Regions from separate parts of the Homo sapiens genome. Here regions 1, 2 and 4 are each linked to region 3. Evidence: fine-mapped expression QTL. A gene starts in region 3. Each other region holds a variant in brackets. All regions are shown on one strand. Distances are from middle to middle.

Region 1 (5,298 bases), 710 kb before region 3:
GAGCAGAAGAGAGGCGGCTTCTCTCTGGGTGCATCTGAGGAGGATGTTGAGAATCATGTTTCCTGAGCTTATTTAGAAATTAAAAACGCAACAAAATACCAGGAACACACTCGTGAGGATGGGACCAGGACGAGTGTCGGGAGGGCACGGAACTCCTGGAGGTGCTGGGGTGTGGACTGTGGTTCACACCCTTCTGGCAGTTTCTTAAGGGGTTAAACATGCGTCTCTCACCGCTGCTTCTGGAGAAATGAACACAGGTGTCCAGCAAAGCCTTGTACAAGGTTCACAGCAGCTTTATTTTACCCCGCAGTGGAACGCTTGCGACAGCAGGAGCCCGCTGCTTCCACTTGTGGGAGATGCTGGGCAGCGCAGTGATGGGAGTGAGGAAAGGCCCTTGGGCACCTTTGTCGATGGGGTGGGAGAGGCCTGCCAAGGGCGTGAAGAAACTTGGGTGATGGAGAATTATCTTGACTGTGATGGTTTCACAGGTGTGCAAAGTGTCGAAACTTTCCGCATTGCACACTATAAATATATGCAGGTTACCATACGTCAATCAGGTCTATCTCAATAACGCTGCAAAAATAAATGAATGAAAAATAAAAAAGCTGCGTTCGTGTGTGGAGACAGGAACATGGGAGGTGCCAAATGGAAGAAGCAGAGGTGCGGGTGGGGAAGAGGTGAGGGTGGGGCACTGGGGAGGGGGAAGGAAGGTGCAGGGAAGGGGAAGGAGGGTTCAGGGAGTGGGGAGGGGGTTACAGGGAGGAGGGATGGGTGAAGGGGGAGGGGAGCAGGGGGTGCAGGGAGGAGGGGAAAAGGCAGCAAGGGGAGGGGGAAAAGGGAGGGGAGGGGGGAAGGGAGGACGGGGGAAAGGAGGAGAGGGGGAAAGGGAGGGGGGAACGGAGGGGAGGTGGGGAAAGGGAGGAGGGGGTAAAAAAAGGGGAGGAAGGAAGGGAGGGGAAGGGGGAAGGGAGGGGAGGTGGGAAGGGGTGCAGGGAGGTGGCAGGTTTGATGGTGCTGAGGGGCGGGGTGGGGGGCACTGCTCCTGACCCTGGTCCAGGTCCAGCACTGTCTGCTGATGCTGGAGGTGGGGTGGGAGGTCCGAGGTGGGAGGAGGGAGGAGGTCTGGTCCTGGTGGAGGGACCTTTCCATCTCTAGGCTGCAGGGGTGGTGGGGAGGGAGGGACGTACAATATTGTTTCGCCAACAAGCGTCCAAGGAGCTGGAGCTTGCTGGGCTGCCAGAGTCCCCTGAATGTGGCCCAGTTCTCTAGCAGGGCCTTCCACTCTGTGCTGCTCTTCCCCTATGTCCTCTCAAATGCCACCAGCTCCAGGAAGCCCTCCGCCTCCGTCCTGAGCACTCATCCCCTCACCAGCAGCCCTCTGGGTCACTTCAGACTTCACTTCTTGGCCACACTGGAGCCCTGGTGGTCCCTGGGCCGCCTCAGAAGCTTATGAGAAATGCCACGTGATGACTGAGGGGGCCCCGTGTCTCCCGGCACAGCGCCTTGCACGGGCACATGGGGCCAGCAGGCCCCACCCATCCTACCCGCTCGGGGTGGACCCAGGGGGGTGGGTCATGTGGCCTGGCTTGTCTTGGTCACTGACACAAGCTGAGGGATGGCCGTGACCTCAGCCTGGCCAGTCCTGTCTCACCCAGACATGTTACAGGAACTCCCAGAAGGACACTTCATGTTTGGGGGCTGGCAGGACGTCAGCTCAGTTGTCCAAGGACTGCCACCGTGGCCACTGCGGGGCAGAGTGTGGCTGAGACCAACACAGAGGCCGAATGAAGAGCCAGCCTTGATGGCATCCCGGAGCGCCTGGATCCAGCCGTGCCTGAGGACTGGCGCCTGGATCCAGCCGTGCCTGAAGACTGGCACTGGGTCTGTTTTCATGGTTGGGGGCAGGTGGCTATAAGAATGCCACACACCAATTCCAGGCTGCGGTGGACCCAGCCAGCCACGAGAACGAGCTCCCAGGAGCTGAGGATGGAGGGGGAGCCCGACATTGCAAGCCAGGCCCTGGAAAGCCAACTGCCCAGTCCTCGCTGCTGCCCTGCCAGGGCCCCTCCCCGCCCTTCCCCTCCCAGGGTAGATTGAGGGGAAAAGAAGCGTGGGCCCCAACCCTGGTGGTGCCGAGAACCCTTGCCAGAGAGACTTTGGGGAGCGCTCCCCCTAGAGGGGATGTCAGAGGCTTTTGGACACTCGGTGTGTGGGGAGGTGCTGAGACTCCTGGCGGGTCCTGAGGGCTGGATTGGGGCCACATGGTGGGGCTGAGGCCCACCCCTTCTGAGGGCCCCAGAGGGAAGGGTCCCCACACCCCCTCCTCAGAGCACCCACTTGCTGCGTTTGGGGAGGGGCTAGTCGAGGCCTCCCTGTTCCTCCAGGGAGAGTCTGGCTTAGGCCCTCCTCCGGATGCAGATGGCCCTTTCCCCTGTGAGCCTCAGTCTCCTCATCTCTGAAATGGGGACAGTGGCAGCACCACCCAGCGCCCGGGTGGCCGAGGGTTGACCTCAGCGCACTCGCCCCCACCTGGCCGCAGAGACAGGAACACAAAACACGCAGCTGCCCTGCGGGGTAGGGGACACGTGGCAGGCCAGGGGAGGGGCGGGGCCGGAGGGTCGGGGTCGGGGCTAGAGGGCTGGGGGCGGGGCCGGGGGCAGGGCCGAGGCGGCAGGTGGCAGCGCGAGTTCGCGGCGGGTCTGGGGCGGACACAGGCTGTGCCTTGTGGGAGCCGAGGAGGAGCCAGGGGCGGGGGGCCCGGGGAGGAGATCAGGCTCG[A/T]GCCCGTGGGTAAGGCCCGGGGCGGGGCACCTGGGCCTGGGATGCTGGGTGCATGGTGGGGGCCAGGTGGGGGGCAACGGGATGTGAGTGGGGGCGGCCGGGGGGGCCAGGGAGGCTGGGGAGGCGGGACGCGGCCCGTGTGGGGACGCGGGTGCCGGGTGGAGGGTGCCGGGGACTGGAGTCCCGGTGCGCCCCGCGTCCTTCGTGGAGGACACCTTCGCCTCCTCCCACCCTGCCTGTGTCCGTCTACACCTCCCCAAGCAGACACCTGGCCCGTACCCCGGGGTTTAGAGCCCAGGGCAGTCGCAGTCACCCAGGCTGACTCGCGGGAGGGCTGCCGATGTGCCAGGCTCTGCGGGGAGGGGAGGGGTCACAAACCTGCCACAGTCCCTGCACGTCGGGTCGTTGCCGGTGGAACTCCTGAGAGGGCACCAGACGTTGGAACCCAAGAGGCATTTGGCACCACAACCCCCAGGTAGAAGAAAAAAGGAAAAAGGGGCCCAGGAGGACGCAGTCCTGCGAACCCCGCGAAGGCTTATCTCCAGGGAGTAAAAGACTCGGGGACCCCCCGCCTTCCCGGACCTCAGGGCATCTAGGGTCCTGCAGTCGCCTGGGGTGGTGACACCCGGAACGGTGTGCAGGCAGGGCAGGGCAGGCGGAGCCAGCACCGACCGCATCTCCAGGGGATCTTGCTTCTCAGAGAGGAGACTCTTCCCAGAAAGCAAAACAGGCGGGGACACCCTAGATTCGGCAGCAGCTCCCAGGAGGAGGGACTGCAGGGACAGACTCGGGGCTTCCTGGTAGGCAGGTGGGTGGGAAACTGGCTCAGCCTCCACCACAGCAGCTTGAAGCACAGCCACCAGTGCCTGAGAAAGGACCTCTGCTCTTCCTAAAGCCAAGGAGGCTCCGTGAGGGTGAAGCGGGGCCAGACCCCACCCCAGCCACACAGGGCTTTGGCTTGCCGTCTTGACTCCTCCAGCAGTGACTTGAAGTTTCTCAGCTCAGTTTAAAAAAACAAAACAAAACAAAACAATAAAAAAAAAATTGGCCTATTGCGGTGGCTCACGCCTGTAATCCCAGCACTTTGGCTGGCTGAGGTGGGAGGATTGCTTGAGCCTGGCAGTTTGAGACCAGTCTGGGCAACAAGGCAAGATCCTGTCTATATAAAAAATACAGAAATTTTCATGCATGCCTGTAGTCCCAACTACTCAGGAGGCTGAGGTGGGAGGATCACCTGAGCCCAGGAGTTCAAGGTTGCAGTGAGCTGTGATCATGCCATTGTACTCTAGCCTAGGGGTGGACCCTGTCCAGGACCTAGGGTCTTGAGAGCAAGACCCTGTCTCCAAACAAACAAACACCACCCCAAACAAACTCAACTAGGAATTTTACTGGGATTGCATTGAATCTACAAATTGATTTGGGGAGAACTGACATTTTACATTATTGAATTTTCTAATCCAGGAATATGGCATAGCCATTTATTTATGTGTTTAATTTCACTGTGTAGTTTGCAGGTGGAGGTCTTTCATGTCTCCAATTAGATTTATTTCTAAGTATTTGGATGCTGATATGGTTTGGCTGTGTCCCCACCCAAATCCCATCTTGAATTGTAGCTCCCATAATCAGCACGTGTTGTGGGAGGGGCCTGGTGGGAGGTACCTGAATCATGGGGGTGGGTTTTTCCCGTGCTGTTCTCGTGATAGTGAATAAGTCTCATGAGATCTGATGGTTTTATAAAGGGCAGTCTCCCTGCACACGCTCTCTTGCCTGCCGCCATGTAAGACGTGACTTTGCTTCTCCACCTTCCGCCATGATTGTGAGACCTCTTCAGCCACGTGGAACTGTGAGTCCATTAAACCTCTTTTTCTTCATAAATTACCCATCTTGGCTATTTCTTCACAGCAGTATGAAAATGGACTAATACAGATACTGTTGTAAATGCTATAATTTTAAAGTTCGTGTTCTGTTTGTTTGTGCTAGTCTACAAACACTTGATGGATTTGTTTTTTGGGTATATTGACCTTGTCCCCAGTGACCTTATAACTCCACTGATTAATTCTAACAGATTGTTTATCTATTCTTGAGGCGTTCCTCTGTATGCAGCTGTGTCATCCGTGAACAACCACATTTTATTTTTTTCCCTTCCAACCTTTACATCTTTTATTTTTTCTTGCTTTCTGCACAGGCTGAGGCTTCCAGGCCAATGCTAAGAAGAGTGTGGTCCGGGGCCCTTGCCTCCTTTCCATCTCCAGAGGAAGTCTTCCTGTGCCTCAGTAAACTTTCTGATCTTCATGCAAGTCCTGTGCTTGGCTGGGTGGGCTTTCCTAAGGCAAGTCCCTGTGTACTGTCCTGATATTTGTTGTACCCTGGGCACGGAGGGGCTCAGCCAAAGCCTCCTGTAGCCCAGCCCCCCAGTTGCTCCCCTCCCTTCGGGATTGAGAGAGGGAAGCAGGCCCCGGCGGTGGGTGTGGTTTGGTGGCGAGCGGCACTCCTGTCTCCTGTGCCTCCCGGGGTCTCTGT
Region 2 (5,298 bases), 51 kb before region 3:
GAAACCCACAGCCTACTCCCATCTTGAACTCTGAACTGTACTTGAGGGCCTGGCTGTGCCATAAGAATATCAAAAGGCCTAGACAAAAGGTCAACGGAAGTGGTGCTATTGGCAGAAGGCTTACAAAGTCCAAGAGCAACTAGGGACTATATATTTATCACCCCTATCAGATCAATCCGTGGGCCGATCTTCACTCTAGAAGCCAAATATACAGATATAGATCATATTTTCAGTTATCTCTGAACTCCCACGGATCTCCTGGCGAGCCATTTGCCAAATCCATTTGTGATGTGGCAGCATCTTTCATGAAAATGACAAGCTCCAGATCAAGGTGGCTCCCTTCGATCTTGATGTTAACCCAGCCACTTAGGTGCACGTGAGCGGTGAGCTGGATGACATCTGGAAATGCACAAACTCATGGCCACCAAAGCCCTGGGAAGCTCTGAGACCAAGGGGAAGAGAGAGGTTCGTGAACCGAGGTCAAGAGAATTGAAAAGAATCAAGGGAGTTTTATTTTTAATAACTTAGGAATTGGTCCAGGGACTTGGAATGTCGTGAGGACCTCAGGCTGTTCAAAGTCTTGCTGCAAAAGTGTGGTCCCCACACCAGCAGCATCCATAGAGAAAAAGTGTTGGAAATGCAGACTCTCAGGCCCCACCTCCCCCGGGAGTGGGAATCCGCATTCAGCAGGATTTCCAGGGGGTTCACAGCACACTGATCACTAGATGCCTGAAGACTGTAAGGTCGCTGCATAAGATACGGCAGGTGCACTGGCCCTGCATCTCGAAAGCCACGCTGGGTGGAAGGTTTCTTCCCCCTCTGCCCCCAGACAAAGAAAAACAAAAATCACAAAACAAAAAGGCAGGTTTATAGATCCACCGAAACACACACTTACGGACAGTCAGGCTCAACATCAGAGATGACGCTGAAAAATACTCCCCACACACAATACAGGCCCAGAGCACACACCACACACACAGTGCATACACAACACACACAACACACTGCACATACACAACACACGCACAGAACACACACACATACAACACACATGCTGCATGCCCAACACAGGCAACACACTGTACACACACCCACGCACAGCACATGCACAAAGCACACACACACATACAACACATACACTGCATGTACAACACACGCAACATACTGCACAAACATCCCACACACAACACACGCACCGAACACACACACACACAATACACGTGCTGCATGCGCAACACAAAGGACACACTGTACACACATCCCCACACACAATACATGCATTGCACACACACACACAACCCCACACACACAACATGCACACTGCATGCAAAACACACAGCACACTGCACACACAGAGGCTCTAGTACATACATAGTCTAGAAATACATCGTCTCTAGTTGCTCCTGGACTTTATAAACCTCCTGCCAATAGCACCCCTTCTGCTGTCCTTTTCTCTAGGCCTCTTAATATTGTTATGGCACAGCCAGGCCCTCTAGTACAATTCAGAGTTCAAAACATACAAAACACACAGCATATGCACCATATACAACACAACAAACACAGCACATACACACACATTCACACACACACAACACGACCAAAGGCGTCCTGTCCTCCAGGGGCTCATCGTTTAGAGAAGCCAACCACGCAGACCATTATGAAGCAATACAATGTAATATGAAATAATAAAACTAGGACGCAGAAAACCAGTATCAGAATGAAGTAAAATAACAAAAACTGGCCACTTCAGTGATTACCTAGGAAGTCACTCCTATAACGACCACACCAAAGAACGGGGGGTTGGGGGGGTGCCGTCCACTATCTTCAATCCAAAATGCTGACTGCTGAGAACTGCGTTCGGAGGATGGGCAGAGAAAGACCTAAAACCAGGATTCGTCTTCATAGAAGCCTGGGGCTGTGAAGACAGTTTCCTGATCTGCAGCTGAGGAAAGGAATGCCTGGCCTTTTCCTTCCCAGGCCCCAGGACACGGGTTCCTTGAGGGTCCCATAGAACTGGGGACATCACCACCCAGAAAAACGTGTGAAATGAAGCCACTGGCAGGAGCCTATCCCTACGGCCGTGTTAACCTTCAGAAGAACAGCCCCAGGTCAACTCCGTTCCGAAGTAGCCTCTATTATTTAAGAGGAGGTGCACGTGTTGCCTAAGTAAACAAAACAGGATGGCACCGTGCCCATCGGACCTCCTGGGATCCAGGCTGCTGCTGAAGG[C/T]TCGCTTTCCAGCTTGCCCCACTGGACTTCCGTGGGCTCCTCCCACTGGTGCCTCCGTGTCCCGGGCCTGGGGGTGGGCACAGATGCACAGTGATGCTCCACATATCTCAGCCCAGCTCCTACCTCCTCCTCCCTGCTCCCCTGAAAAGAGCTACAGGGAAATTAAGCAATGGCGCTGGAGGTGAGAAGGCAGAGAGAAGAGGACTTCAGGAGAGCTGGCACCGGAGAGAGCAGACACCCCCCAAATCACAAGATGACCAGTTGGGGGCCCACCTGGATCCCTGTCCTGCTGCTGCAGCCTTGCTGGGAACCCAGGAGAAGCAGGAGGGTGAGGATGAGGCAGAGAAGGGGAAGAGGGGCAGCCAGAGGAGCTGGAAAAAAATGGCAAGAGCAGGGCCAGACGGGGCAGGGCGTGGATACGGCTGTGCCTCGAGCCCCTTGCTGTCCCCCACCCCTGCCCTGGCTCTTGCAGAGGACTCGTGGCCTTGACCAGCACCAGGCCAGGCACCTGGACCAGCAGCAGGAAGGCCACCCCAGCAGCAGCTCATGGCTAATATCGCCCTCCTTGACCCAGGCTGGTGACACATTCACCATCTCGCCCATCCTCACAAGAACGCCTGGGTACCACTCTCCACTCTTGTTTCACAGCTGAGAGAACAGGCATAGGAAGGGGAGCCACATGCTTTGGGTCTCAGGGTGTATCTGCTTCCTACTGTGGCCGTAACGTCACCACAAACCCCATGGCTTAATGTGAACACTTATATCTTGCAGGTCTGGAGGCTAGAAGTCTGATATGGGTTTCCCTGGGCCAAGAGCCAAGTGTCAGCCATGCTGGGGAGGCCCCAGGAGAGAATCCTTCCTTGTCTAGCCTCTGGAGGCACCTGTGTTATGGGCTCATGGCCTCTTTCACATCACTCCAACCTCTGCTTCCCTCCTCACATTTTCTCCTCCCAACCTTGACCCTCCGGCCTCCCTTTTGGAAGGGACCTTGGGGTTCTATGGCACCAACCAGGATAACCTCCCATCTCGGCATCCTTCACTTTCATCACATCTGCAGAGTCCCTTCTGCGGGGCAAGGTGAGACATTCAGAGGTGGAGAGATTAGGACTGGGGCATCTTTGGGGGTCCCTGTTCTACCTCCCATGCTCAGGGAACCGAAACAGGTGTGTCTCACACAGACCCAAATGCTGCAGCCATCCCTCCGGGCCATGCAGGACATGGGAGGCACCAACCAGTCTCAGGATGACTTGAGGGATGGAGGGGACAACAATGCCGATTCCCTGCCCCCACCCCCAACCTCAGTCAGACCCTCCCATTCTCCTGTGAAGAATGACGTTTGTGACAACAGACCCCCCCCAACCCAGGCCAAGGAAACACATACAGGAAACATCCTGGATGCTTTTGCTTTTCACCGTTCATCTGAAGTTAGGCGTTAAGCTTGTTCATCACTTTGGCTGGTTTAATTTTAGAAAGACCTGCTTGCAAAGTCTTGAAAACGCATAATGAATTGGCAGACAGCAAACACATCTGCACCACAGTGAGGATACGGACTGCACACACAGGAACGTGACAAGGTCCCCAGTGGCTAAGAAGATGCCCAAAGCAGCTCCCTGGCCCTCACACGGAAACCGGCCCTGTGGTGAGGGCTCGACCATGAGCTGCAGGTCACCGCCCAGACCTCGGCCTACTAAATGCTCTCTCTCCCCACAAAAGGGGCACCGTTTGTAGTGGAGTCTCCTTACTTTGTCAGTCGGATCTGACTTGCAAATTAAAACAATCTGCTTTTACCTTTGCATTAGCCTTTAAATACTTAAGTTTTAATTATACATAAGTCTACCTGGAGACGTTTTGGGCAACTTCCAATATTGTCAGTCAGCAACGGAAGTATGGCGTAAAAGCGCATGTAATTTCCAAACCCCCGGTTGTTAATGAAATCCCAAACATTCAGATTTTAATTGAACTAGATAAAGATTAAGAAGCTTAGCAGCAGCTGGCAATACGAATTAGTTCTCAGCAGAGTTTTATGTTGTACTCTAAATCATGGCTTTTGTAATCGCCCTCAATTGTCCTTTATCTTGCCAATGCAGATTCGATTCTCAGGGACCATCAGGCTTCCTGTCTCCCCACTGCCTGAAATATTTTGATGTGTAAAGTCTTAATAGTAATTTTAATAATATTATGATCTGTGCATATGATGTATATTCAATAAATCTTTACACTAATTAGAAGAAAAGTCGGGGCCTTTATGAAACCTATTTTTAAAGCTGAGTTTTATGGCCGGAGAATAATCGCTTGAAACGACTTAAAAAGCAGCAAAAACTCTCTGGAGGTCATATGACCAAGGCAAGAGGCCTCGCGAAGCATCGAGAATTCAACAGAAGGGTCTGCCCCAAATGTCAGCAAAATGCACACGCCCAGGCCAGTGAGTACCAGCAGCTGCCCATTTAAATAAAGGGGCAATGTGTTTTCAAACATGGCTGCTGTTTTCCCAAATGGCCAACATATGGGCAGGGCACCACCGCTGGCACCACTGACAAAATGTAAAGGCCCCAGCACTGTATCCCCTTGGTTCCTGCCTGACACAGCAGCCCTCAGGCATTTACCGCATCCATTGTGGAGACAGGCCAGGCTCAGCTCTCCTCCTTCACTTTCTAGTGACCACGGCAACCACCTTGCTAAACCGAGCCTCGCTCCTTCCATCTGTGAAGCGGGCTGAGGGCCATGGGCTTTGGCACCTTCACAGAGACACTGCAAATGGGGAGTTGGGCGCAGCCCCGGGCACACTGCGAGGTAAGAGTCGTGAGCTTTGAAGTTAATGGGATTAACCGTGGGGTGAGTCCACGGCTGCCCAGCAGCTCATGTGAGGAGGTGGGAGGGCCCTGCTGCCAGCTGCAGGGGCCGGGGGAGGGAGCAGCCGCCCATGGCTGGTGCTCCGGGCTTTGTACAGCTTGAACTGCTCCAAAAGGAAGGGTGAGGAGGAGGAGGTGGGTTTGTTTCCCAGGGTCCCTACCTCCTGGTGGCTCTGCCAGGAAGCCAATGTTTTTCCACCTAAACAGACAGTTGTCCTGG
Region 3 (5,298 bases):
AAATACTTGGTAAGAAGGTCTCTCTCTGCACACTATTTGGGTGATGTTACATCCGAATTACAGTTTGCTGCCCAGGAAATGATTCACTTCACTCAAAAATGACCGGGGTTCTGAATCATTCACCTGTTATGCAAAACGCCTTTCAGGTCAACCAATTTGCACCTCGTGGACTTCACCACCATCATTTCACAGAGAGCACAAAGATGAGGCAAGCCTTGCCTCTCCCATCTACATGTTTCCCCAAGGAAAAGCATGGCAGCAATTCACTCCCACCCCTCCACACCCCGCCTTACCTTGAAGTAGCTTTTCCCCTTCTAGAATATTTTGGGAGATTAATGCCGTGTAATCATCTTCAGAGAACCCAGCCTTGCAGGTCTCTCTAGTTGTAAGATCCTCATTATGGGCCTGAGAACACAAAGGGGAGAGTGTAAAACAATAAGTTCACAGAAATTTAATCCAACCAACATTCATCCAGGGCCTGCTGTGTAAAAGGTCTCTGGCTAAGAGAGAAAGGCTGGCAGGCCACCGTCTCCACCCAGACGCGATACCCCGTCTGCTCCTCTGCTCTCTGGGGACTTTAGGGAGCACTCTCCAGGCTACAGACCAGGAGCATCCTTCCCCAGCCCCACACACAGCAGGCAGGGAGTGAAGGACGGACTGTTGGGGAAGCCAGGCCGGCCAGGGCCTTATTGGCAGAGGAGACGCCTGAGAAATGACCAAAAGGCAGAGACAGAAGACTTCAGCCGCTGCTCCCGAAGCCACTAAGGGCAGGGAGGCCAAAGTGTGGGCGGCTCTGCTCAGACCATTCGCGCTTTAGGCCCACCGCTCTGCGCTCTTGGTAAGGCGGAGGAGGCAGCTTCTTGTCTCCTCTCCAGGTCACCGGGAGGGAGGAGAAAGAGGAGAGAAAGGAAGAAGATTCTCTAGGACTAGGTCCGGAGCCGGTCGAAGAAGGCAGCTCTGCGGGAGGCTGCCGGTGGCTGGGGTGAGGAGGCAGTGGGGGCGCTTCCACCTTCTAGTCTTCAGCCCGCATTTTCACCCTCGGAGCCCCCATCTCCAGCCCAGGCAGGGAGACGGCTCCCCTAACTGACCGGAAAGGGGGTCTCCTCCTGTCCTCCGGAGCTCGCTCGCCTTTCCTGCTCAGTGGGGAAGTCTAGAGCCCATGGCACAGGGCCAGGGAAGGATGGGGTGGACGACAGGGCCCTCCGACCAAGCTTCTGGGAGGGGGCGTGACAGGCAGGAGGAGGTGGTGGAGGGAGAGGCAGTGTGTGCAAGCGGGAAGCCAGCCCCGCTGAAGGAGCAGGAGCACAGCGGTGCTTGGCTCCCCGGCGAGCGCAGGAAGCCTCGGGTGCAGCCCGCACCGGGCAGTGGCGCCTCCCGCCCGCCGCCTCCTCCAGCTCCGCGCGCTGCCGTCGCCCGCCCATGCTTCGACTCCGGAGGCCGCCCCCAGCCCGGAGCTCCAGGCTTCCCGACGCCGGCACCGCGGAGGGCGCCCCTCTACCCCCAGCACCGAGGGAGGAGAGCGGGACGCAGGGTCATTCCTTACGAAAAGCTCTAAACCGCGGCTTTCTTCATCGGCCACGAAGCTCCAAATCGCACCCGCAGCCCGGTGGGAGGCTCAACTCGCCCAGGAAAGTTTCCGCCCGCCCGAAGCGTGTGCCCAGCGCGTCCCCCAGCGCCCCGCGGCCTCGGAGCGGGCCTCCCGCCGCTGGCACTTGTTTATTTCCGAGGTTACAACAGCGCTGCCCGGGAGAAGGCAGCGAGGCCGATCGGCCACGAGAGGGGGTTCCTGCAACTCCCGCCGCCCCTCCGCCTCCGCCCAGGGGCGCCCCCGGAGCCGCCGCGCTCTCTGCCCCCGCGGGCCGCGCACCTCGCCAGGCGCAGAGCAAAGCTGGCAATCCGGCCCGCGGGGCTCTGCAGAGGCAGCGGGAGACCCGCTCGCCCTCCCGGGGCGCCCTCCCGCGCCGCGCCCGCCCGGCGTCCGGCTTCCCGGCCCAAGCCCGGCCCAGCTCCCAGCCCCCGGGGCCCCGCCGGACACGCAGGCTCCAGCCCCGCCGAGGGCTCGGGGGTGAGAGTGCCCCGCAGTCCTACCCCGCCGCCCACCCGCAGCGCGGGTCCTGCCGGCACCCACAGAACTGAGCGGCGCCGCTAGACGGACCCCCAGGCCTTGGGCAGGAGAGGTCGGGCAGGCGCCCCGCACTCGCGGATCCCTGGCCCGCAGCCGCCGGGCGCCCCACGCCTTCAGCCACGGCCGGGGCTGGGCTCGGCAACTCCCGCGGCGCGCGGCTCCCGGGCGATGGAGGGCGCGCCGGCTCCGCCAGTGGAAGCCTGCCCCATGCAGGCAAGCCGAGCTCCGGGTAGCGGCTACGGGCTTTGGGCGTTCGAGGGAGGCTCGGCGGGTCCGGTGCAGGCGGAGCTCCCCGGGTCCTCCACCGAGCCCCACTCCCACCCTGCTCCGCCGCTCCCCGCTGCCCAGGCGGCTTCCCGCTCCTGCCGACCGCAGGCAGCTTCGCCGAGCGCGGGCGCCGGGCTGGATGCAGCGGGGAGCGCGGCGGGGGAGCCCGGGAGAGCCCCGCCGGGTGTGTGAGCGCCCCGCGGGATCCGGGGACGACCTCCCGCTGCCCGGGGCTTCCGAACGGCGGGGGCGGGAGGCGGCAACTTACCCGGAGCGCGCCGGAGAGCGAGAGCAGCAGAAGGAGCACGCCGGCGCCCGCGGTCATCTTCCCCGCCGCCCGCCCGGTGCCCGGCACCGGGAGCCCGCTCCCTGCCGCCGCCGCCGCCGCCGCCGCCGAGACCACCGCCGCCGCTCCGATCGCCGCCGCCGCCGCCGCTCCCCCGCGCCTGCCCGGAGCCTCCAGCCCCGCTGCGCCCGCCGCGCTCGCCGCCCCGGCTCCGGGAGCCAGGCCAAGTCCGGCCGGCGGCGCGTTCCCTCGGGCCGGTGCGTCCGCCGGCCTCGCAGCCGCCCGCGCCTCTGTTCCGCGCGCTCGGAGCTGCAGGTGAAGCCGCGGCCGCCCCGCCGAGGCCCCGCCCCGCCGCCCGGCCCCTGCGCTCGCTCTGCCGACGCGGGCCTTAAAGGCGCAGAGCCCGCGCCCGCGCCCCCCGCGCCGCACCAGCCCAGCCTCTGCCCTCCTGGACGTCTGGAGCCGCCCGGTTGCGGCCGAAGAGGCCAAGGACGCTCGTTTTCCAGGGGAAAAAGGCGCGGGTGTGGAGACTGAAGACAGCGCTGGGGTTTCCGCCCCCACACCCGGGGCACCCTTTCTGGATGGGGCGGTCCCGCCGCGGTCTTAGTCCGACTTCCCGCCCGGGCCCGCGGTGGGAGTGTGCACTTCCATTCTGTCCTTTTATTTTTCAGGTGTCTCCTTGCTAACTCCCCTGACCCGGGCTTGAACCCAGGTCGGGCAGCTCAGGGGTGAGAGTTTCCACCTGGAGCAGATGAGCAGAGGGCCACGCTGAGATTTCAGCCTGTGGGGCTTTGCAGACCCTCCCGCTCCTAGGAAAACTCAAAGCCCTGGCCTGGGCTAGGGATGTACCCTAGGATTGGGGACGGTAGTAATTCCTGTGTGTGCATCAAAACACCCTGTTAGGCCTCAGAAGCCAAGAAAGAAATTAGAAGCTCCAAGAAAGAAAGAAGTGCCCAGACAGGAGCTGTCAGGAGTGTCTGCGCCGACAGGCTGGGCCAGCTCCAGCTCCCTTTGCCCTGCATGGGTGATGGCTGAACTGGGGGGCACTTCTTTAAGGGTTATCAGGTAAAATATATGTACAGGTCGGACAGTGAGTAAATGTTTCTGCACTTTTCCTTTTGGCTTGGAGATTTAAAGAAACGCGGTTTTGTTTGTTCAGATACATCGAATTTTCTTTGTCTGGGGTTTCAGGGACTCTGTGTCCAGAATACATTAGTTCTGGTTTAAGAAATAGGTTGCAAAGGAGAGGGTGGAAGATTGAGTGACACTGTTGAGCTCCAAGATCAGAGTCCACTTGGGCAAGCCAGTAGAGAAAGCTACAGAGCAGCCGCTTCCCTCTCTCCCTCCCAGAACCCCCACCCTTGGGGGCAGGGTGGTCTCCCGGTTAGAGCTCTGCCTTACGCTTAAGGAAACCAGATTTTAGATAACCCCAGAGGACCAGAGTAAGCACTACATCCGAGAGCACAAGGCGAGATTCGGTTTTGCAACTTAACTATGGAACTAGTCAGGAGACACAAAATCTGCCCCAGCCTGGACTCCTATCAGTTATGGCCTTGTCCCACTCCCCACCTAGCCGAAGAAGGAGAGGTTACCAGTTGACATGGCTGGAGGTTTAGACTCACTCGAAGGTCCTGCGTAGCCAGTGAGGTTTCATGAACAGATCCATCCAAAATCCTCATGGACAGAGAATTCCATTCCTCGGCCATGTGCCCGTCCTTTGGGAAGACGCCCCCTCTGCTTTCCTCCTTATTCAAGGTGCTTCACCACTGCTCGAGCGACATCAGAAGCTGTCCAAGACTGCTTTAGACACCAAGACAGCTCTCTTGTCTTGTGTCCCTGGTCTATTTTCTTAAAATATCTGTCGCTGGGGATACACCTTTGTCTGCAGGAGGCCTGAGCATTATGCGAGTTATTTCTTTGGAGAGGCATCACAGACCCCCGCATTTGCTCCAACGTGCTCTGCGAAACTGTTGAAGCGCTGAGGAGCGCGCCAATTTGAAAAAGAAAAGGTATGAGTGTGTGGCAGGGAGACTGGGGTCCAGGAGCAGGTGGGTCCTGAACTCCAAACACTGTGTTAAGCACATCTCCCTCTACTACTGAATGAATCTTGAGTCTACTGCAGCGTGATTTCCAGAAAGGGTAGAGTTTGACAATAGCCTGTCCTTACAAGGTGCTAGCTATGTGCCAGGGACATGTGTAGGAGCTTTATGTAAAGTTGCTCTTGGAGTCCTTCTAACTCCACTATACAGTCAGGCAGAGGAGGGTGCAGAGGGCAGGCACGGGGAAAGCTGCAGTGCCAGCATTCTCACCCAGAGCTGGGACCCTGGCACACGCAGCATGGCCCCAACTTTGTTCAAAGAAACCTTCTTACACAGCTGTAATGTCTTACGGGAACTCGCATTTTCCGAAATACATAGTTTCAGAAACACTGCAGTAACTGACAGGAGTCCAGTAGAGAGCATTGGTTTATCAGACTTACTCTGAATGCAGCAGCAAAGATTGCTGAGACAGAAAAGAAAAATATGACCTAAAATACAAAGCAGTGCCTCCAAAGAATGGTCTTCAGCCTGTCACTCTGAGTGTGGTCCCCAGACCAGCAGCATCAAGATCCCCCAGGAGC
Region 4 (5,298 bases), 760 kb before region 3:
TTTTGATGCAGGTGCAAATCATGCCTTCCTCACCCGCTCAGGACTGCGATCGTCAGGGCACAGGGCAGGCCTCCCAGCAGCACTCCCGTGTCCAGCGGGCTGGCAGGTGGCCGGGGTCCTTGGCTTCCTGGGCGTCCTGGCCACCGCAGGGAGGCTTGTTTTCTTTTGCTGGGCGTGAGGCTGGTCTCCCCCTCGTCAGCTGGTGGCGTGAGATGCCCTTACCTTGTGTTTTTGGATTCTTGTAGCCTCAGCTCGTTCTGGGTGGCGCTGCCCAGACGGCTTCACTTGGGACGGCGACGGCTGTTCAGACGGGGACTCCTCAGCGCACGGTACCAGGGGCGACCACCACTTCCTCAGCTGCCACGGTAAGAGCCACTCCTTTCCGTGCCTTCAAAGACGGTCAGGCCCGTGGCGCAGGTCAGAAAATGCAGCCTTGAGACCTCAGGCCGGCTTCTGTCCCAGACCGCTCACTGCTTGCTTCACAAAGCAGTGAACAGTCTGGGGCCCACGTGAGCACGTGGGGCTCTGCTGCTGTGCTGTGTGAGGTGGGCTCCGAGGGCCTTAGACCGCAGAAGTCTGCAAACAGCAAAAGCCCAAACACCTGCCTTTGAAAAAGTCACTGGTGCACTGTCGCGTTGTATGTAAAACAGCAGCGCCACCCGTTTGTACACACTCGTAGTGTCGGCCTGTATCGATACACATCTTTATTAAAACAGAAGAGTCACTGGTGAACTGTTGTGTTCAGTGTGTAAAACAGCAGCGCCACCCGTTTGTACACACAGTGTCGGCCTGTATCGATAGACATCTTTAAACAGTGGGCCCCACTTGACGCCTTTTTGGTGTTTCTTTGCTGCGTACTTTTCGTTGCTTTAGTGACCGCATCCTATTTGGTTCCTTCTGTGTCCGTTTGGATTGGCATAGGTTGTCCTTATGGTCAGCAACATTGTAGCAGGCATCTTCGCAGAGTCTCTTTTCACTTTTTTAATTATTTGCATAGCTGCATTCCTAGATGTGGCCTTGCGGGGCTGAGGGAGATGCTGACTTCGGTGGCCATGTGACTGATGTGGCTGGCCTGCCCCATGGCCCAGGGTTCCAAGAGGTGGTGCGTTTTCTTGAAAGAAGTTTAGAGAAGAAATATATGTATCTTTTGTACATATGCATATTTTAGTAACCAAAGGCTGTGACAAAAATCTGCCTTTTAAGATTTTTCACTTATATCTTTTTACTTTAATCCAGGAAACTATGGAAAACGTGAAGAAATGTAAAAATTTCCTATCTACGTTAATAAAACTGGCTTCATCTGGCAAGCAGTCTACAGAGACAGCAGCTAATGTGAAAGAGCTCGTGCAGAATTTACTGGTGAGAAACCTTGACTTTACATTCCCTTTCCCCTAAAGCCTGTTGCATAGGACAGACACCTGTTGCTGCTGTGACCTGTGCCCGGGAGGCCTGTGCCAGCAGGGAGAGCTCCTCTGGAAGGCTGCAGGCGAAGGGGAGGGGTGCACACGTGTCGAAGGCGTGTGTGGCCTAGCTAAGGAGACTCCTTCCTGGGGCTGGGTGTTCTGGGGCCGGCGCCTGGAGGTCTCCCGGGCTTTGCCGTTTTCTGGTGCCTGCGTCCCTTGTCTGTGGCTCTCTTCTCCTCTGGCTGCCCCAACCATGCTGCACTCTGGTCAGGGTCTCCAGCAACTCCCTTCTGGCCCTCTCCCCACTCCTGTGTGACCTCTTATAAAATTCCCAGGTGTCCGCAGTCCCGGCTGGAACAGGCATTCTGCACCCTGAGCCACCAGAAGCCCCCTCCCCATGGAGCAGACCAGCTGAGGCACATTCGCGCTCCAGTGGCAGAGCCGTCCCCCCCACCCCCACCCCTCCCGAAACCTCTGTCGCAGAGAACAGCACTCTGTCCCCTGGCCGGAAGGTGGGAGGGAGGATTCCTGGCAGCCTCCCCTCTCCTTAACCCACAGTCCCAAGCTCCAGATCTCCACTCATGGCCGAGCTCTCGGCTGTCCACCTTCCTCAGCCTCATGGCTGTCTCGTGGCTCAGGGCTGTGCTGGCGTCAGTGGGATGGCCTGGGGATCTGGAGTGGCTGGTCTTACCGTGCCTTCTCCTTGTCCGCCTGACCATGTCTTCCGGAGTCTCTTAGGGTTCAGTCCAGGCACCGCCTTCCCGCCTTGTCGCCTGTCTTCCCGACCTTTATTCCACACTGGCCTCTGTTTCTGAAACAGGATCTGGCCCTCTTGCTCTGGGCTCCCTTTTGTCTGACTGTAGACTCTGGGCACCCTGGCCGCTTGCAGGGGTGAGCACAGCTGTCATCTGCTCCTGAAGGCGCGGATGCCCTGACTGTGTGGATCCTGTCTGTGTGGCCCCTGGCACGCTGTGACCTCCTGCAGCACCGCACTTGCAGTGCTGGCTTTGATAATGGAGTTACTTTTAGGCTGATCTGCCTCCTAGCAAAATGCCTGACACCGAGTAGGTGCCTGGTAAGCACTGAGTAAAGACTGGCATTGAGTAAGAGACTTAGAAAAAGACGAGAAGTAGACAGGTGACCCTCCCAGGAGGAGACGTGGTCCGCAGCTGGCTGCACTGCAGTGTCCAGGGTGAGCGCCTGTCACACATGTACCTGTGAAAGGTGTAGCACGCAGACTTTCCCATCTCCTCTGTCCAGTGAAACTCGGGGCGGAATCAGCCGTAAAATACGAGACCAGAGTGATGCGGGATTCAGAAGTGTGTGTGGAATCTCATTCACCAGAATTTCAACATGGATTTTATTTTTAAGGATGGAAAAATAGAAGCAGAAGATTTCACAAGCAGGTTATACCGAGAACTTAATTCTTCACCTCAACCTTACCTTGTGCCTTTCCTGAAGGTAATTTCAAAGGCCCCGGTGCCTGCGAGCAGTAGGGCCAGGGAGGGGTGGGGCGCAGATGC[A/T]CCAAGTGTGCAGGGCGAGGATGCTCCAGGCACGGAGGGTGCACAGCGCTTGTGCTGCCTACGGGGGTGGGGCCGGGGACTCAGTGCCTGGGGACAGAATGTTAGTTTTTTTTCTGTAAAGCAGGAGCTCCCCTGACACGGTGGCCTTGTGGTTCTGTCGTGCGCAAGGTGGTGAGAAGGGCGTGTGCTTCCTGAAAGTGAAGGGGACGGGGAATGGGGTAGCGTTTGCAAAACTGGATAGGACCAAGGGTTTCAACAGCGTCAGGCTGTCTCTGTTGGGTAATCATTGGTATCAGCACATTTTAAAAATCAATACGTATATTTGTACACATTTATGAGGTGTATGTGATGTTTTGTTACAGTCATAGATAGAATCAGGATATTTGGGGTCTGTCACCTTGAGTACTTATTTCCATGTGTTGGGAACATTCAGAATCTTCTCTTCCAGTGATGTTAACATATTTTAAAAAGTTTTTTAAAAATATGTCTCTTTTTGTTTGTTTTCTTGAACACATTTTGGACATTTGCTATCAGGAATAATCCCACTTAGTGGGAGGGCAGGATGGGGTCCTGGCCCTTGACATCCAGACATGCTGCCGTGAGGGCCAAGATCCATCTTACTTAGCTCAAAAGCTTTCTGTAAAAGTTGATATTTCTGAATTTTTAAGCAAGGAAAACCGACGCATGAGCAGCCGCCTGACCCCTCGTGTCTGTCTTTCCACCCAGAGGAGCTTACCCGCCTTGAGACAGCTGACCCCCGACTCCGCGGCCTTCATCCAGCAGAGCCAGCAGCAGCCGCCACCGCCCACCTCGCAGGCCACCACTGCGCTCACGGCCGTGGTGCTGAGTAGCTCGGTCCAGCGCACGGCCGGGAAGACGGCGGCCACCGTGACCAGTGCCCTCCAGCCCCCTGTGCTCAGCCTCACGCAGCCCACGCAGGTCGGCGTCGGCAAGCAGGGGCAACCCACACCGCTGGTATGGAAGGGGCGCCTGACTGGTCTGCACAGCCCACCGTGCCTCTGCTCCCGCCCGCTTCTTAGATAAATTGGCCACGGCTCAGAAACCTTTTCCAAGCATGCAGGAAGCCTCCTGCTAGAGGAAGCTTGGGTATTACCTTAAATAGTTAAAATAGAAACCAGAGGTTGAGGCCCTGGGATGTTGTATTTTGTCTCAGTAAAATGAAATAGTTGAGTTGGCTTTGAACCACCGGCACGTCCCCGCCCTGCCTTGTCTGGGGATGTTACTGGTGTAAATGAATGCAGCGTGCTTTTAGAGGATCTTGTAGATAGATGTTCTCTTGGATTAGGAGCAGCGGTCCAAGCGTAAGACACGGGCACCTGCGTGGGACAGGTGGGCAGGAGACTGGAGGCAGGGTAGCAGCTCACAGCACAGGGTGGATTTAGGTGAGTCCCGGGAGGCGAAGCCGCGGCTGCTCATAGCGGTTCACTTATGTGCAGTTTGGATCTGGCTTTCTTGGTTTTATAGTCATGACGTTTGCTCTGCAGCTAGAGAAAGGATGTCTTTGCCAGAAGAATTACATTTTGAGCACATTCCCTTTCATGGGCAGAGGGATTCACCAAACGTAGAGGGGCAGTTTTAAAAAAATTTCAGAGGTGTTTTCTTCCTCTAAAGACAGCTTAAACAACAAAATGGTGCGGGCTCCCTCATCATGAGCTGGTATGTGTTGTGATGGTGTACACATCAGAACCAGCTGGGTGAGGAGTAGCCATTAGGGGGCTGGCTCTTGTGCTCTGTTCAAGTTGCATTTGTTTTTGTCTTGATAATAGCGAGGAGAACAGGGTGAAATGGCATGGAGGGAGGGTGTCCCTTATAAAGGCCAGGGAAGGGCTGAGCGCCTGTGTAAAGAGAGGGCTTCCTTGCCTGCCTTTTGACTCCAGAGGGAAAGAGATGTGCCGTGCCTCTTGCTTTAGTGTAAGGACAGAACTTCCCTGTTCACTAGTCAGTGGAGCTACTTTACCCAAAAAGGTGGGTTCTGTTTAAGCAGGCACAGCCTGTGGGCAATCATTTTCTTGCCAAGTTTTGACCTCTGGTGCTTAGTCACACACAAGCAGCATGGGTGTTTTTAGAATTAGGTGCTGTGTTTGGCAGCAGGATCACCTCTGCATTCTGCTTCCCTGGGCTCCTCCTGACCACGTGTGAGTCTGCAGAGCACAGCCAGTGGGATCCAGGGCATCCAATCCATTGCCTGCACCCTGAAGCCTGTGGAGGCAGAACCCAGGCTTCTCCCTGATTCGATGACAGGCTCCCTGCACCGCAGGGCCTGGCCCGGGCATTTGATGGCAGGTTCCCTGCGCCGCAGGGCCTGGCCTGAGCATTGCCTGAGCTGCCTGAGGCTCTTCCTGTCCAGTGTG

Which allele goes with the higher level. Positions count from the first base shown, and alleles are read on the strand shown. Sizes are in standard deviations (SD) of each study's normalised expression.
For the expression in pancreas of the gene that starts at base 2,970 in region 3, allele A in region 1 goes with a higher level than allele T (moderate effect, 0.51 SD a copy in GTEx).
In carriers of allele C in region 2, the expression in nucleus accumbens of the gene that starts at base 2,970 in region 3 tends to be higher than with T alone (moderate effect, 0.41 SD a copy in GTEx).
For the expression in prostate of the gene that starts at base 2,970 in region 3, A is the high allele of the variant in region 4 and T is the other (small effect, 0.39 SD a copy in GTEx).

The links. PIP is the estimated chance that this variant, and not a neighbour inherited with it, causes the effect. A credible set is the group of variants that fine-mapping cannot tell apart.
Region 1: its variant is the best candidate, but not a certain one, in a credible set for the expression of CDH4 in pancreas (GTEx, PIP 0.62).
Region 2: its variant is the best candidate, but not a certain one, in a credible set for the expression of CDH4 in nucleus accumbens (GTEx, PIP 0.56).
Region 4: its variant is the best candidate, but not a certain one, in a credible set for the expression of CDH4 in prostate (GTEx, PIP 0.75).

What each region holds. Positions count from the first base shown.
Region 1 is chr20:61,963,250-61,968,547 of GRCh38, reverse strand. No RefSeq gene overlaps it. Among named protein-coding and RNA genes, the nearest start is that of MIR1257, 12 kb to the right of the region's middle. RefSeq lists enhancers at 1,890-2,519, 2,520-3,148, 4,051-5,250 and a silencer at 4,408-4,608. The variant A/T (reference allele first, on the strand shown) is at 2,779.
Region 2 is chr20:61,300,775-61,306,072 of GRCh38, reverse strand. The region is part of intron 2 of CDH4 (cadherin 4); the gene reads right to left. Among named protein-coding and RNA genes, the nearest start is that of CDH4, 51 kb to the right of the region's middle. The variant C/T (reference allele first, on the strand shown) is at 2,230.
Region 3 is chr20:61,249,933-61,255,230 of GRCh38, reverse strand. CDH4 (cadherin 4) reads right to left here and starts at 2,970. Exons shown (of 16, transcript NM_001794.5): 1 at 2,661-2,970; 2 at 294-405. The coding sequence starts at 2,717. RefSeq lists an enhancer at 174-866.
Region 4 is chr20:62,005,113-62,010,410 of GRCh38, reverse strand. It overlaps TAF4 (TATA-box binding protein associated factor 4), which reads left to right. Exons shown (of 15, transcript NM_003185.4): 4 at 246-365; 5 at 1,237-1,359; 6 at 2,775-2,864; 7 at 3,653-3,901. Among named protein-coding and RNA genes, the nearest start is that of MIR1257, 54 kb to the right of the region's middle. The variant A/T (reference allele first, on the strand shown) is at 2,927.